Linked DNA regions of Homo sapiens: region 1 is linked to region 2. Evidence: fine-mapped expression QTL. A gene starts in region 2. The other region holds a variant in brackets. All regions are shown on one strand. Distances are from middle to middle.

Evidence for each region.
Region 1: its variant is fine-mapped to the expression of NIPSNAP3A in whole blood (TOPMed, PIP above 0.99).

The regions. Positions count from the first base shown.
Region 1 is chr9:104,722,236-104,725,148 of GRCh38, reverse strand. All of the region lies in intron 1 of LOC107987105 (a long non-coding RNA gene), which reads left to right. It also overlaps the pseudogene OR13D3P. Among named protein-coding and RNA genes, the nearest start is that of NIPSNAP3A, 24 kb to the left of the region's middle. RefSeq lists an enhancer at 1-1,089. The variant C/T (reference allele first, on the strand shown) is at 1,675.
Region 2 is chr9:104,746,057-104,748,969 of GRCh38, reverse strand. It overlaps NIPSNAP3A (nipsnap homolog 3A), which reads right to left and starts at 1,287. Exons shown (of 6, transcript NM_015469.3): 1 at 1,118-1,287. The coding sequence starts at 1,177. LOC107987105 (a long non-coding RNA gene) reads left to right here and starts at 1,331. Exons shown (of 5, transcript XR_007061705.1): 1 at 1,331-1,521. RefSeq lists an enhancer at 724-883 and a silencer at 1,304-1,393.

The DNA.
Region 1 (2,913 bases), 24 kb after region 2:
TGCTCTTTGTCTTCCACTACCGGGGTGGATAGGGAAGGACCATCAGGTGGGTGCAGGGCGAGGCGTATTTGAGCTCAGACTCTCCTTGGGTGGGTCTTGCTGCAGCTGCTGTGGGGGCTGGGGGTGATTTCCAGGTCACTGGAGTTGGGTACCTAGGAGGATTATGGCTGCCTCTGCTGAGTCATACAGGTTGTCAGGAAAGTGGGTAAGGCTGTCAGTCACAGGTGTCACCCAGCTCCCACGCAAACTGAAGGGCTACTCTCACTCCCACCTTGCCCCAGCCACCCTCAACAGCCCCGAGTCTGTGTCCAGGCAGAGGGTGAGACAGGCTTGAAAACTTGTCCGAGGCTATCTGCGTCCCAGCTGCAAGAGAAAAGGGCTTTAGTCCTTCCTCTGCCTGTGAAGTCTGCACACCTGATTCGCGCCCTCTGCGTTCTGACCAGGAGGCTTCTCGCCCCATTCAAATTGTTACAAAGGTCAGATATAGAATTCCTTGTCCCTGTGGAATTTTACCCCTGCTTCTCTGTCTACCCTCCTGATGGATCCCTGTGGTGCCAGGCAGGAATGGGCTGCTTGGGGACCCAGTGAACTCCTAGGGCCTTTCTGCTGCTTCCTCTACCTCTGTATTTCACTCGGCTCTCTGAGGTCAGCTCCAGGTAAACTTCCAGAAGTCAGAAACTTCTCCTGCAAACAAACCTTCACCTTCTCCAGTGGGGATGTGTGTTTGGGAGAGGAGGGTCTCCCTTTCCCATTTCTGCAGTTGGGGTACTCACAGTATTTGGGGTGTCTCCTGGGTCCTGCAGGAGCAGTCTGCTTCCTTCAGAGCATCTGTGGGTCCTCTCAGGATTGCTGGTTTGTTCTTGCAGTTGATCTGGAGCTAAAATTCACAATGTAAGCTTCTGCACGCTGCTCTGTCTGGAGCTGCAATCTAGTCTTGCCTCCCGTCTGCCATGATGCCCCTCATGTTAAAATTAGCTTTTCATATAAAGATAATTTATTGACTCATGAACTAAAAAGAATGTGAAAATGACTTTAGACACAGCTGAATCGAGGAGTTAACAGCATCAGACACCCTCTCTCTCCTTCTGAACTCCCCTTTGCATCTCAGTTAGGCTCTCTGCTCATACTGCCAAAGATTGGCTCCAGGCTCACAATTCTCCAGTTAAGCAACCCTAGTGGAAAGAGTGCCTTTTTCCCCCGCCCTACTGGGACAGCATTCTTGGGTTGAGTTTGATTAGCCTGACTTGGCTCAGTTGCTACCCTGAATGAGCCACTGTAGCGAGATGAATTTGCTTTTTTATTTGCTAGGCTTTTGTTTAGCATCTACCACTATATCCAGAAGATTGAGTTAGTCCCATGCAGACCACATGGACTCAGAGGAATAGACTGTTGTTATATATATATAAAAAAAAGATATATTATTTTACCAGAAGAGGTGATGCTGTACAACAAAGCAACAGATGTTCTATTCAAAATGACGGATAAAGGAGACCAAGAAGACAGAAGAAAGATAAAGGAAGTAGATGAAGAAGGGAAGAGGAGGAAGGTCAAGAAAGAGGAGGACATGGAGAAGAGGGAGAGAAAAGTGAGTAAGAAAGAGAAAGAGATAAAGAGTAGAGAAGAGTGAGATTTATCTTGATGAAAAACCTTATCCCTATATGGGATCAGTGAGCA[C/T]AGATACCTACAGCTTGAAACTCTGCACACAAGACATTATTCAGAAGGTGTACATGAGCATTCTGTGATGAGAAGAATGGGAATCCCAAAGTTGTCTTTACAAACATACACACTCTCTTGATACCAGATTCTGTGACTTTATCTGTGAATACAAAACACCTGATCTGATCCCTTGTTGAGAACGTCACATGCCTCAAGGCCTTTCATATTTTCCATAGATGCACGTGTCTGCTGAGGATTTTCTTCACAGCTTCTTTTATCTCCTTATTCCTCAGGCTGTAGATGATGGGGTTCATTGGGGTGATCACTTCATAAGACAATCCAATGATTTCATCAGATGCTGTTGTGAACTTTGATTTGGGCTTCATGTGCATGAAAAGAACTGAACCATAGAATAAGATGACCACAGTCAAGTGCGCTGAACAGGTAAAAAAGGCTTTCTTTCTTCCCTCAGCAGAATTAATTCTCAAGATGGAAGAGAGAATAAACACATAGGAGATAAAAATTAAGAGGAATCACCAATAAAACAATACTTGACACTGTCATTATAAACACATTTATGGAGATATCTGAGCATATGACTTTAAGAAGAGCCAGGATCTCACAGGTAAGATGATCAATGATATTATTCCCACAGAAAGGCAACATCATTGTCAGAACTGTTCGCAATAGGGAGGTCAGACAGCCTATGATCCAGGACCATGCAGCCATTTGCACATACAGCACTCTGTTCATGATGATGGAGTACCTCAGTGGGTTGCAGATGGCCACATAGCGGTCATAGGCCATCACAGCCAGGAGGATACACTCAATGGAGCCCAAGCCAAGGGACACAACCATCTGCAGAGCACAGCCAATGAAGGAGATGGATTTTCTCTCAGATACAAATATAATAAGCATTGGAGGAATGGATGATGATGTGTAACAGATGCCCAAGAATGAGAGGTTTCCAAGAAAGAAATACATGGGGGTATGGAGGCGAGAATCCAAGATGGTGATGATAATGAGGAAGCTATTTCCCAGGAGGATTATCATGTACATGATGAGGCAGAGCAGGAACAGAAAAAGCTGGAGCTCTGGATATTGGGAAAGCCCCACCAGAAAGAATTCAGTCACGGCAGAGTGATTTGTTGTCTCCATGTGTTCATGTCATCTGCAGAGTTTAGAAAAGAACATGAGACAGGAAAATTTGAATTTTTGATGTAGAGTTATCAAATAACTTTCATATTCATCATTTTG
Region 2 (2,913 bases):
AGCCGGATGGGAGTTAAGAATTTTGTTGCAGGGATGACTTTTAGCTGCTAGGGCAGAAATCATGAGTCGTCCATCCTCCCTTATCTCCAAGTTAGGGATCATTCCCACCAGCAACGACCTCCACTTCACTTAAAAGAGAACAACTGATGGACATTTCTAAAAACTTAAAGTTTGGAATCATGCCATAAGGACGTCATTCCTGGCCCTGCCCCACTGGAGAATCATTAGGGTAAAAACTGCATTGTTAACCCGGGGTGAATGGACATGAGCTGCTCTTCTTTAGTGCTCCTCAGTCTGTCTCTAGGACAGGTTAATCCCCTTCCCATCCTGCCCCTTCAGAAAGGAGTAAAGTCCTAAACATCAAAAGGAAAAGAAATTTCTAGGTTGAAGCCACAGAATAGGCCACTCCCGAAAGTTAGGGCAGAATCACAAGCTCCATTTTGTCCATTTCTCATCTAAGGTTAAAAGAGTCTGTCTGTCATCGTCCGGTTTGATAGGAGGCTCCGGTCCCGCCTGGTTGGGGGAGCGACCACACGAAGCGCGGGTGGCGGGCAGGGTCCAGCCCCACCGGGACCCTGGGCCTCCTCTTCAAGGGTCTCCGCGAAATGCTCGGAAGTTGTGTGCTTCATTTAAAAGGGGGAGGCCGGTTCCGTGGCAAGCGGCTGGTTGACAATTCCCTCCTTCAACCTGATGTCTAGAGAGGGCGGTGGCTTGGAAAGCTACGACTCCACCCGCGGCTCCACAGCGCCAGGTGACAACATGGGAGCGCTCGCTGGGCCGCAGCCGCGACATAGCTGGGCAGCAAAAACGAAACAGCCGGCGCCATGGGAGTGTCCCGGTGGGTGTGGCATCCAGGCTAGAAAAGCCTTCTGACCACCACTGCCCGCGAGACGACCCCGGCTGGGGGTATTCCCCTAGCAGCGGCCTCCTCCTCACGCGCGTTCCGGGTACCCCTGTCTTGGGGTTCCGGGGCTCACGCTAGAACCTCACCGGGGCCCCAGGTCTGGGCGCGCGTGGCGGAGAGCGCATGCGCATTGCTCGCACGTACCCGGAACACTCCCCGCCCCGCCCCTCCCCTCCCGTCGGGTGAAGGCTTGGGTACCCCCGTGGCCGGTACCTGAGGCGCCAGCGTCCGTGAGGCCAGCGCCCGAGTCAGGGCGCTTCTGAGGACGAGCATGGCGCGGCTTCGGCGCTGAGAAAAGCAGCCAGCCGTGTCCTTTCTGAGACTCCTCTGAAGGTTTCCCGAGTGGAAAGGAGCGGCTCCTGGATCATTGGCAGACGCAGGCTGGGGCGGGGCTCGGCGGGGTCAGCTCCACCCCGGCGCGGGAGGCGCGGCGGGTCCCGTAGCTTGGTGTCTTTCTCTGCTGTGCTGAGCGTTGGTTCCCCCTTGGTTTCCTGAAACGTTCTTACCCCAAACGTTAGAGGTGACGTTAGGATTAACTGAAGGCTCGGATCGTTCCTGCTTCAACTTTCTGGGCCCTCACTCACCTCATTCGCTCCAGTGCTCAGTTGTGTAGATTGGTAAATGTGCAGGGGTTGTGGGTGTGTTGACCATGGGGAAAGAAGGAGAGGTGTTGAGTGCGTGCATGTGCAGTGCTTTGTATTTAAAATCGTGGAGGTTTTTTCCGAGTTAAGTTTTAGATGTTGTGATAGACGTGTATTTGAGCCTGACCTCTCTGCAATGAATGTGTTCTCCATCTTAGAAGGCTCCTAATTAAGATTTAGATTAAATTTTCCACGAGCTCAGAGAAATGGCAGCATCGAGCCTGAAATGAAAAAGTCAAAGTTAAACATACCCTGGTCTAGTCCTCCCAGTCCGGGAGTGTTGGTTCCCAGAGTAACCACCTTCAACATTTCAAGCTGTTTCATTTAATGCTTGTTTCTGTATTTTTAAGTAAGTAGTGTTTTCTGCTGTTTATTGCATTTTCAGTTATGGATAGTATGTGTTGACTTCCTTCTGTGGCAGATGAGGATTTATGTCTCATAGATGCCACTGCCCCCAAATTCACTTGTCTTCCTGCATCTAATAATGCTTATGTTAATTTACAGTAATTAATTACACTATTAATTTACAGTAATCTATATTAATGTTTACATTATTCTTGCTAATAATTACATTATTGTAAACATTAATGTAATATTGCTTACATCATGAGGACTAGGGAGGGATTGCAGGGCCATGACCTGGGTTGTATTGGTTGTGCCTTGTGGAAGAGCTTTGGAATTGTCTGTTCAAAGGAAGGGAGACTTTTTAAAATTAGTTATTTCGGAAGGGTTGCCTCAGTTTTTCTAGAAGAGAGACATCTATTTGTAACCATGCAAGACTAAAAAAATCATTTGTATCAGGACTGGATCTATATGAGTAAATTATTTTCTTAGACCTTTTTTTTTAAACCCTGTAATTGCCAATCCATTTACTTATTCAACAGATATTTACTAAATTCCTTCCATGTTCCAGGCACTTTTCCAGAAACTGGGGTACAGAATTGAGCAAAATTCAAAGTCCCGTCCTCTTGGAACATCCAGGATGGAGGAAACAGATAAAAAAAGGAAGAGTAAATATATCAGGGATTGTCAAATAATATAAAGAAAAATAAAGTAAGATACGAATAAAGGTGCTAGTGGAATTCTAAAAGTGGTCAGGATTCTAGCTATTGACTTGGATATTTAGGATTTAGGTTTCTTCATACCACTCCCTCAAAATACACTTTCCTTCCTGCGTTTATTGATGTTTACATTAAAAATATATTTTGGAGTGAGAAAAACATGTTAAAAGCACTGTAAGCACAGGTGAATCTCTTCAAATAGTGGGCTTCACTGTGAGGTGATCTGACCTGGGTATTTCACTGAAGGCTGTATCCCCTCCCCCCAAACTGTTATCTGCAAGTTATTTATCTGTGTAGTCAGTGTTAG